2 separate regions of the Homo sapiens genome follow, and region 1 is linked to region 2. Evidence: fine-mapped expression QTL. A gene starts in region 2. The other region holds a variant in brackets. All regions are shown on one strand. Distances are from middle to middle.

What was found.
Region 1: its variant is fine-mapped to the expression of ZNF687-AS1 in whole blood (INTERVAL, PIP above 0.99).

The regions. Positions count from the first base shown.
Region 1 is chr1:151,313,652-151,319,018 of GRCh38, reverse strand. PI4KB (phosphatidylinositol 4-kinase beta) reads left to right here. Exons shown (of 12, transcript NM_001369623.2): 2 at 2,510-3,446. The coding sequence starts at 2,538. Among named protein-coding and RNA genes, the nearest start is that of PI4KB, 11 kb to the left of the region's middle. The variant CAAA/A (reference allele first, on the strand shown) is at 2,202.
Region 2 is chr1:151,279,941-151,285,307 of GRCh38, reverse strand. It overlaps ZNF687-AS1 (ZNF687 antisense RNA 1), which reads left to right and starts at 3,379. Exons shown (of 2, transcript NR_135595.1): 1 at 3,379-3,765; 2 at 5,050-5,284. It overlaps ZNF687 (zinc finger protein 687), which reads right to left and starts at 3,009. Exons shown (of 9, transcript NM_020832.3): 1 at 2,913-3,009. RefSeq lists enhancers at 1,898-1,967, 2,276-3,161, 3,208-3,437, 3,468-3,667, 3,162-4,046 and silencers at 2,388-2,547, 2,828-3,107, 3,789-4,129.

The sequences.
Region 1 (5,367 bases), 34 kb before region 2:
GATTTTCAACCCCAGCCTATTTGCCTTCAAGTCCAGAGCTCTTTCCATTATATGTTAGCAGCCACGGCACTGGAGAAAGAGGGTGTGATGTCATGATGTCAGACAACCAGAGAAACGGCACAGCTTCAGCAGGGTTGATGATGGTTGTTTTAGAGCTGCCTTCTTCTAAGTGAAGCCTGGCATGGTATTTACTGGCCTTTATTTTCTGGGAACTTCGAGTTTAAAAGGGAAGGTAAAAAAATACCTGTAACCAGAAAAATATATCAAGACTTTAATTTTATTTATTTATTTATTTATTTATTTATTTGAGACAGAGTTTCGCTCTGTTGCCCAGGCTGGAGTGCAGCGGTGCGATCTCGGCTCACCACAACCTCTGCCTCCCGGGTTCAAGCGATTCTCCTGCCTCAGCCTCCCAAGTAGCTGGGATTACAGGCATGCGCCACCACGCCCAGCTAATTTTGTATTTTTAGTAGAGACGAGGTTTCTCCATGTTGGTCAGGCTGGTCTCGAACTCCTGACCTCAGGTAATCCGCCTGCCTCAGCCTCCCAAAGTGCTGGGATTACAGGCGTGAGCCACCGCGCCCGGCCTTTTTTTTTTTTTTTGAGACAGAGTCTCACTCTGTCTCCAGGCTGGAGTGCAATGGCGTAATCTCGGCTCACTGCAACCTCCACCTCCCAGGTTCAAGCAATTCTCCGGCCTCAGCCTCCTGAGTAGCTGGGATTACAGGCGCCTGCCACCACGCCTGGCTAATTTTTGTATTTTTAGTAGAGACGGGGTTTCACCATGTTGGCCAGGATGGTCTCGATCTCTTGACCTCGTGATCTGCCCACCTCGGCCTCCCAAAGTGCTGGGATTACAGGCGTGAGCCACTGCGCCTAGCCAAGACTTTAATATTAAATAAAGATGGCTGGGCAAGGTGGTTCACACCTGTAATCCTAGTGCTTTGGGAGGCTGAGGCAGGAGAATTGCTTGAGGCCAGGCGTTCAAAGCTAGCCTGGGCAACACAGCAAGACGCCATCTGCACAAAAAAATTTTTTTTTAATTAGCTGAGCATGATGGCACACACCTAAAGTCCTAGCTACTCGGGAGGCTGAGGCAGGAGGATGCCTTGAGCCTAGGAGTTCAAGGTTACAGTGAGCTATGATCATGCCACTGCACTCCAGCCTGGGCAACAGAGCAAGACTTGTCTCTAAAAAATAAAAATAAAGGTGAGATGCACAGGACCTGTGTGTAGAATGTTATATGAGTAAGGAAATATAGTCTAAAGTGGAAAATAAAAAGGTTATAGCAGGCATTTAAAGGGAGACAGGAAGAGCAAGTGGATAGAAAAGTATTTGAAGAGTTAGGGAACAAGGGAGTAACACCTGACTTGCTTCTCAGTCTACCCGAAGAATCTGTAAATCACCAGGCATGGTGGCTCATGCCTGTAATTCCAACACTTTACGAGGCTGAGGAGGGAGGATTGCTTGAGCTCAGTTCAAGACCAGGCTGGGCAACATGGTGAGACCTTGTCTCTACAGAAAAATTTAAAAAATTAACCAGGCATGGAGGCACATGCGTGTAGTCCTGGATACTTGGGAAGCTGAGGTAGGAGGATTGCTTGAGCCCAGAAAATCAAGGCTACAGTGAGTTCTGATCGCGCCACTGCACTCCAGCCTGGGCAACAGAGCAAGACCCTGTCTCAAAAATAATAAGATTAAAAATTTAAAAATAAGCCAGGCATGGTGGTGTGCACCTGTGGTCCCAGCTACTTGGGAGGCTGAGGTGGGAGGCTTGCTTGAGCCCAGGAGGTCAAGGTTGCAATGAGCCCAGATTGTTCAACTGCACTTCAGCCTGGGTAACAGAGCAAGACCTTGTCTCAAAAAAAAAAAAAAAAAAGAATTTGTAAATGTAGGCCAGGTGCAGTGGCTCACGCCTGTAATCCCAGCACTTTGGGAGGCCGAGGTGGGTGGATCATGAGGTTGGGAGATGGAGACCATCCTGGCTAACATGGTGAAACCGTGTGTCTACTAAAAATACAAAACAAAATTAGCTGGACGTTGTGGTGGGCGCCTATAGTCCCAGCTACTTGGGAGGCTGAGGCAGGAGAATGGTGTGAACCCGGGAGGCGGAACTTACAGTGAGCTGAGATTGCGCCACTGCACTCCAGCCTGGGTGACAGAGCGAGACTCCGTCTCAACAACAACAACAACAACAACAA[CAAA/A]AAGAATTTGTAAATCTATATAAATACAACATATACAAAACAACATTTCACATATATAAGCTAAGAACAGAGGCTAAGCTGAGTAACTACAGGAGGAATGACGAGTAATGTAATCAGAAGTGGAGGTAGTCAGGAAAGCTTCCTAGGATATGTCTTCTTATCTGATTTTGAAGGAGTCCAGGAAGACAAAAAGAGGAGGTGCCTGGGAAGGTGTCATAGCAAAGGGAAGATCTGAGGATGGCACCACTAACCAATGTGTGTATGTGTCTCCCTTTCTGTTCTTTTCTCCCTCCCTCTTCCTGTAGCTTGGAAGCTCGAAGTCTGGCTGTGGCCATGGGAGATACAGTAGTGGAGCCTGCCCCCTTGAAGCCAACTTCTGAGCCCACTTCTGGCCCACCAGGGAATAATGGGGGGTCCCTGCTAAGTGTCATCACGGAGGGGGTCGGGGAACTATCAGTGATTGACCCTGAGGTGGCCCAGAAGGCCTGCCAGGAGGTGTTGGAGAAAGTCAAGCTTTTGCATGGAGGCGTGGCAGTCTCTAGCAGAGGCACCCCACTGGAGTTGGTCAATGGGGATGGTGTGGACAGTGAGATCCGTTGCCTAGATGATCCACCTGCCCAGATCAGGGAGGAGGAAGATGAGATGGGGGCCGCTGTGGCCTCAGGCACAGCCAAAGGAGCAAGAAGACGGCGGCAGAACAACTCAGCTAAACAGTCTTGGCTGCTGAGGCTGTTTGAGTCAAAACTGTTTGACATCTCCATGGCCATTTCATACCTGTATAACTCCAAGGAGCCTGGAGTACAAGCCTACATTGGCAACCGGCTCTTCTGCTTTCGCAACGAGGACGTGGACTTCTATCTGCCCCAGTTGCTTAACATGTACATCCACATGGATGAGGACGTGGGTGATGCCATTAAGCCCTACATAGTCCACCGTTGCCGCCAGAGCATTAACTTTTCCCTCCAGTGTGCCCTGTTGCTTGGGGCCTATTCTTCAGACATGCACATTTCCACTCAACGACACTCCCGTGGGACCAAGCTACGGAAGCTGATCCTCTCAGATGAGCTAAAGCCAGCTCACAGGAAGAGGGAGCTGCCCTCCTTGAGCCCGGCCCCTGACACAGGGCTGTCTCCCTCCAAAAGGACTCACCAGCGCTCTAAGTCAGATGCCACTGCCAGCATAAGTCTCAGCAGCAACCTGAAACGAACAGCCAGCAACCCTAAAGTGGAGAATGAGGATGAGGTAAAATTCTGGGGAGGGCCAGAGACAAAAGGTGGTAGAGGGCTGCATGGAGACAGGATGCCTCCTATATACACACAGGGTTACGCTGTTCTTTCTGTCCTCCCTGTTTCATTTCACTGATAAAAGCATGGAATGTTAGAATGGAAAGGCCTTAGAATTCATGTATTTTGCCTGCCTTAGTTTACAAAGGAAGAACTCAGACCCAGAGAGATAAAGTGAGTTGCCTCAGGTCATATAGGTCATGGCAAGGCTGACGCTCCTGACTGTGTCCCAAATCATTTTTATTAAACTGCACTGGCCAGGCGCGGTGGCTCACGCTTGTAATCCCAGCACTTTGGGAGGCTGAGGCAGGCAGATCACGAGGTCAGGAGTTTGAGACCAGCCTGGCCAACATGGCAAAATCCCATCTCTACTAAAAATACAAAAATTAGCCAGGCGTGGTGGTGGGCGCGTGTAATCCCAGCTACTTGGGAGGCTGAGACAGGAGAATCACTTGAACCTGGGAGGCAGAGGTTGCAGTGACCAGAGATCGCGCCACTGCACTCCAGCTTGGGCGACAGAGTGAGACTCCGTCTCTAAATAAATAAATAAATAAATAAACTGCCATTCCATTAACATCTACTATGTTAATGAGAACTGTGGCAGAAGCCCTCCACACCCTGACCTGAGACTTGAGATAGCTACCAGAGCCTCTCAGAGCAGCATCTGTGGGAAAGGAAAAGGTACTATTGTCTTTCTGTGTGCTGGGGTAGGGGAGATGTTAGAACATCGGCTTCATTCTCCTGGCCACTCCTCCTCATAATCTAATCCCTTTTCACTACCCTCTGAAGATCCTACCTTTTGTTGACATAAGTGTAAGGTTTATTTCTTATCACTGAGGCATCTGGAGAATGCCTTCATTGCCTGCCTTTCCTTAGGGGGAAGAGTGCCTTGCTGGTATCTTTCCCATACCATTTGGGAGAAGCACAAAGGGAAGAGAAAGCACTCTTAGTATAGAGTAAATATAGTGCCTAGTCAAGGACCTGGAGGCTGGGAAGAAGAGGAAGCTACAGCAGCAGTTGGAGGTATAACTTAGGATATAGAGCAGGGAAGAGGTGGCCACATGAATAGGTTATACCCACTCTTCACTCCACATCTGGACAGATAGCAGGGAAAGCTGCCCAGTGGACTACCAAGTGTCAGTGACCTGGTGTCCCAGCCAGACAATGGTGCTCCAGTCCTCCCCTCTGACTCACCATTGGCCAGGCTCCCATCCTGGCTTCCAACCCAGCCTAGAAAAGAGGGAGAAAAAAAGGAGGAATTTGCACTTTTTGAAAAATGCGGATAGCTATGGTCTTGGCATCTGCCTCTGTGGGGCATATAACCCACCCACGTTTTTGATACAATGGGACTTCTTTCAAATAGAGGGAAGTCAGAGTGACTAGAGAAAAGGAAGAGGGAGGGAGACTATAGAGCCTGCTCTCTGGAAATTTGGAATTTTGTTAGGATAGTTTAATAATGGTAAAGCTAAAAGTGCTAACATTTATTCAGCACTTATGTGCCAGGCATCTTGCCAAGTACTTTACATTTAATCCTCACAACCATGCTGAGAGACAGGTATTATTTTGCCAGCAAGGAAACTGAGGCTTAGAAAGATTAGATGTTTTGCCCAAGGTCCCTCAACTAGTGAATGTCAGACCAGGACTCAAATCTCCAGCTGGTGCTCATAATCATTCAGCTGAACTACCTTGGTTATTTCTCAATATCTACTTCCCAAGGTCCCCAGCTGTCAGAAGCCATGTGGGGAAGAACGGCCCAGGCTATGGCCATCTGAGCTTCCACATCCATGCACAGGCAAAGCCAAAACTGTTGTCAGAACTAGAATGAACCGTTTTCATATCTGGTTGAGCTTGGCAGCAGAGCCCTGGGTCATGAAGAGAAG
Region 2 (5,367 bases):
GATGATGTACATGATGTTCTAGGTTTAAGGACTCATTCATGTCCGCATGGAATCAATTCATATTCTTCACGGATCTTCTGGGGTCCACACAGATCTGAAAGGCTGCATGTACAAAGGGACAATGCCATAAGCCAAGACTTAAGAAATGATCCTCGTTCAGCTTTATCAGGGGCGTGCAGTACAAGCAAGTTTCTTCAGTGCCTTACTTTTGCTGTTTGAAAGAGGACACAAATGGCCGGGTGTGGTGGCTCACATCTGTAATCCCAGCACTTTGGGAGGCCAATCACTTGGGCCCAGGAGTTCAAGACCACCCTGGGCAACATGGTGAAACTCCCCAGGCATGATGGCACGTGCCTGTAGTCCCAGCTATGCCTCCCAGCTGACATGGGAGGATCCCCTGAGCCCGGGAGGTCGAGGCTGTGATGGGCCATGATCATGCCACTGCACTCCAGCCTGGGTGACAGAGTGATACCGTCTCAAAAAAAAAAAAAAAAAAAAAAAAAAAGACAAGACAAGGCAGAGAGCACAAGTGATCTATGTATCATAGGGTTATTCTGAGCATAATACAAAATTGCTAATGTAAGAATCCCACCAAGAATACGATTTACTATTCCAGATGAACCAAGCAAGGACATGTCAGGTCAAGGAGGAACTGGAAAGGAATAAGCACTGGAACTCTAGGGCTGGGGTCGGAGGCAAGAGTCAGGGGTCATGCAGGATCAAGTCTAGGGCACCTGGGCCATCACTGGCACCTGGAGATCTAGCTTGGTCAGCAGGGAGAAAAGGACTCAAGGAAATTACCCAAGAGACCAAGATGGAAAGAATAAGACACAGGAACAGAAAGAGACAAAGAGAAGAGACAGAGGGGAAAATGGTGATGGCAGCCTGGTCACAAGGGCCCCAGCCTAGACCTCTCCTGTCACAAACACCTGCTGCTCGCTCACTACCTTCCCCAGAGTGCCTGGCCCTCCCCTAGCCAGCCCTTCCTTCTCCACCCCTCCCCATCTTGCTTTCCCGAGGCTAAAACTCCCAAGATACATACACATTTCTCCAGCACAGCTGCCACAGTGGGAAAAAGCCAGGCTCCCTCAACCCTCACCCATCATTTCTGCTCCAAGCTCCTCACCCCATTCCATCCCCTAACTTTAACTCCTCACCCTTTCCATTTTCCTGTGGCAACAGTAGCCCAGGAAGTTTCACCTAGCCTCAACCTGGCCAAGTGCAAAAAATAAAATTAAAAATCCCACAAGAATTATGTGGCACTAATCCAACAAGCAGGCCAGCTCAGAGTTTGTGGGAGACCCAGGTCTGTCCCCTACCAGTGTCTCCCCATGAGTGTTTCTGTATCTACGAAGAAGCAACTAAAGAGTCTATCCCTATCCATTCCCTGCCCAGGTTGCAGGCCATTTCCCAGCCAGCTCTCCCACCTCTCTCCAGTCTTCAGACTGTAACTAGAGACAGTCCCAGCAAGTGGCAGCTGGGATTGCTGGGACCAAGGTTGGGGTGGGGGCAAAACCAAAGGGGGAGTCCTCCCCTCACCCCCACCCTATTCAATTCTGCAGAATCTGGGTTTAAACAAAAACCCTTGTCTCTATAGGCCTGGCTCCTAAGCCTGGTTCCCTCCTGACCAGAGGCCTGAGCTACCTTCCACTCAGGTACTCAGAAAAGTGGACTGCTACAACGAAGACCAGCGGGGACTAGGAGAAAACACCTGCGAACTCACCCGCCCCCACACCCCGCCAGCCACCTCCCTCTTGGGTGCCCCAGTGACTTAGAGGTCATCCGATGGCCACCCACCCAGAGCAGACAGTCGACCAAGCAAGCCGCCAAGCTCAAGCCAAGGAGGATCAGGCCTTCCTGCGACTGCTGAGCCCTGTCTCTAGGGCTCCTATCTCCCCCGCCCCCTTTCCCTCTGTGGTTCCCCAAAAGCCAAAGAGGCTGAACAGGAAGAGGCTGAACAGGCCCAGGTCGAGTGGGGGCTCCACTGACCTTTGCCCGGGCCCAAGGCCTGCAGCGCAGAGGAGGGCGAGGGGCTGGCGGCGATTAGGTTGAGGCCAAGCTGGGTAGCAGACGGAATTAAGTCCCTGCCATCTGCCGAGGGCTGGCGCGGGGAGCAAGTCCTGGGTTTCGAGGAGGGGGCGGGGTGTACACATGAGAAACTACAAGGGAAACTGAGGCGCGCGGCCCTTCTCTCACTCGCACCGGCGTGCGAAGCGAAGGCCGGGCCTCAGCCAGGCCAGGCCCTTTGGGAGCTGCTGCGCAGCACCTGGGGACCCAGGACTACACAGGATAGGGTGGGGAGCTGGAAAGAGGGGAGGAGAGAGGGGACGGTCTCTGCGCGACTCTCAGCTCTCTAGCTGGGGTCCGTCCCAACTCGGACCTCGTCCCCTCCCCTCCGGGCGCAGCGGAGCCTCCTCCCGCCGCGCACTCCCGGAGGCTCGCTAGAGACTGGAGACTGATCGGGGGGTGCGCAGGGGGCCGGGGGCGCAAGCCTGAGTCTTGCCCGGGCCCGGACGCTGACCCGCACCCAGTCGGGGTGCAGGTTCTGCTCCGGCCTGGCCCAGGTCCCCCGCCCCCATCCCCGGGAACGGACACCATTTTAGGTCGCGACATCCCGCAGCCTTCAATCTCCGGGCCGCACTTCGGGTGCCTCTCGAGCCGGGGGCGCCAGGACCTGGGGTTCTCGACCCTCCTGGGGGTTTACCCGGCTACGGACTGTGCTTACAACAGGCCAGGAGTTTCGCCCATCCGCCCCAATGGATGGAGGCGGTGTCTGGGCCTTCCTAGAAGCCGCCCCAGGGGGCGGCGCGGAGAAGGGGGTAGTTGACCAAGTGGGGGAGGGGCGGGGGTATTTACCCGCCCCCCCCAAGGGGGCGGAGCCAAGGGCGGGTATTTACCCCAGGCACGCTTACTTGTTCCGCTCCTGGTGCGGGCCGAGACCCGGCGGTCTCTACCCCGCTCCAGCCGCTGCAGCCACCGCCGCCCTCCCCGCGGCCGCCGCTACTTCCTGCTTCTCTCCGGTTCGGCCTCCCCACTCCCTCTCCTCCCTCCGCGCTCCAGGTCTGGGCTGCCCGTTTTCGCACTCGCCATTGGCCCTTGCCCCCGTCGCTCAGCCCTGTGCCCCTTCCAGCCCCGCACTGGGTTGGCCCTAAATACTGCCGCTCGGAACTAGCCCCGCACAGTCCTCTTATGCTCATTGGGCAAGGGGCCGAGGCCCTCTGAAGATACCTCTCCCCATTGGCTGCGCCGGGGTCCGTCTGCCCCATCTACGAGTCTCGTAAACGATTGGCCTCCGCCACTGTCGCTTAGAAAGAAGCCAGCCTGCTTCCCAGCTTGCCTACTGGAAGGGGGAGCACCCAGGTGCGTCTCCGCCCCTCGCTCCCTACTGGCCGCTCGAAGCTTGAAGCTGCAGTTCACTTTCGCGAATGTAAGGAACCCAGCTTCTGTGTGGTGGGCACTGAGAGCAGAACCGCATTGAGTCGGAGTGGAGCACAGAAGTGTAGGTCCTTTTGCGCTGTTTCAAGCTAAACCCGTGTCACTGATGCCGTACAGAAGTTACAGAATGGGACGCCACCCCAAACATTACGTCATCCGCTGACCATTTCCTTGCGGTCTTCCCACCGTCTAAATCGCCATATAATCTGATGGATGGGGTCCTCGCGCGGTTCAGCTCCTGGGCGACAGCGTAACCCGTCGCTCCTCCCTCTGCGGGAGGGCGTGGACGGGGCACGGGATTTGGAGCATGGAAGGAATCGGGACCTAAAGGTTGGGAAGGGCTCGCGGACCGGAAGCGGGGGAGGTGACGTAGGAGTGCTGGCGTGGCCGGGCCATTTCCAAAGAGGCATTAAAGGAGCAACTGATAGGCGTCCTAAGTATGGGCTGGGGGGGGAACCGCCAGCTCCATTTCCCATTTAAGGGCTCCCCTTTTCCCCGCCCCCAGCATGGAGTGGGGGTGGGGTCAAGGTCGAGTTTTCCCGCGCTTTGTTGCCACGCCCCCTGGAGGCGGGGGAAAGGGAGGAGTCGCTCGGAAAATGAATCTCCTTGATGCTCTAATAGCACTCACTGGCAGAATTCGTATGCAAGCCCAGTGTGCCACCTCGCGCACGCAGCCGCTCGTTAACGGCGTGTTTTTATTTTTTAATTAATTTTTTTGAGGCAGAGCCTCACTCTGCTGCCCAGGCGGGAGCACAGTGGCGCGATCACGGCTGACTGCAGCCTCAACCTCCCAGGCTCCAGTGATCCTCCCGCCTCAGCCTCCTGAGTAGCTGGGACTACAAGTGAGCGCCAAATCGCCCTGCTAACTTTTTTATTTTTTGAAGAGACAGGGTTTTGCCATGTTGCCCAGGCTGGTCTCAAGCAATCCTACAGACGTGAGCCACTACTCCCTACCTTGGCGAAGTTTTTTATTTTTTATTTTTTGAAACGGGGCCTCATTCTGTCGTCCAGACTGGAGTGCAGTGGCGGGATCTCGGCTCACGGCAACCTCCGTCTCCCAGGCTCAAGCAATTCTCCTGCCTCAGCCTTCCGACCAGCTGGGATTACAGGTGTGCGACACTACCCGCCCGGCTAATTTTTGTTTTTTTCTTTTTTTTTTTTTTTTGAGACGGAGTCTCGCTGTGTCGCCCAGGCTGGAGTGCAGTGGCGCGATCTCGGCTCACTGCAAGCTCCGCCTCCCGGGTTCACGCCATTCTCCTGCCTCAGCCTCCCGAGTAGCTGGGACTGCAGGCGCTCTCCACAATGCCCGGCTAATTTTTTGTGTTTTTAGTAGAGACGGGGTTTCACCGTGTTAGCCAGGATAGTCTTGATCTCCTGACCTCGTGATCCGCCCGCCTCGGCCTCCCAAAGTGCTGGGATTACAGGCATGAGCCACCGCGGCCGGCCATTTTTGTATTTTTAGTAGAGACGGGGTTTCACCGCATTGGCCAGGCTGGTCTCGAACTCCTGACCTCAAATCATCCATCCGCCTTGGCCTCCCAAAGTGCTGGGATTACAGATGTGACCCACCGGGCCCGGCAAAGTTTTTAAAAGTGGTTTCGTTACCCTGCCCAGGAGTCCCAGGACACCGGAACCAGGACTCCCCGGCGCACCCGGAGAGTTTCCGAGCTCCTTTGAAGTATGAATCAGAACTTCTGGATGGGAATCCTGGAGCCACCACTTGCCCTATGGTCGCAATGGGCAAGTCGCTCAACCTCCCAGATCCTGTTTTCTCATGAGTAAAACGGGGATTATAATACCCACCTGACAATATTATTTTTGTGAGAATTAAATGAGTTTAGAATGTAAACACGCTTTGTAAAGTAATTGGCAGTTGGGATTAGTGTGCCCTTTCTCCCGGAGCCTTGCATCCTGTGCATTTGCTCAGGTGCT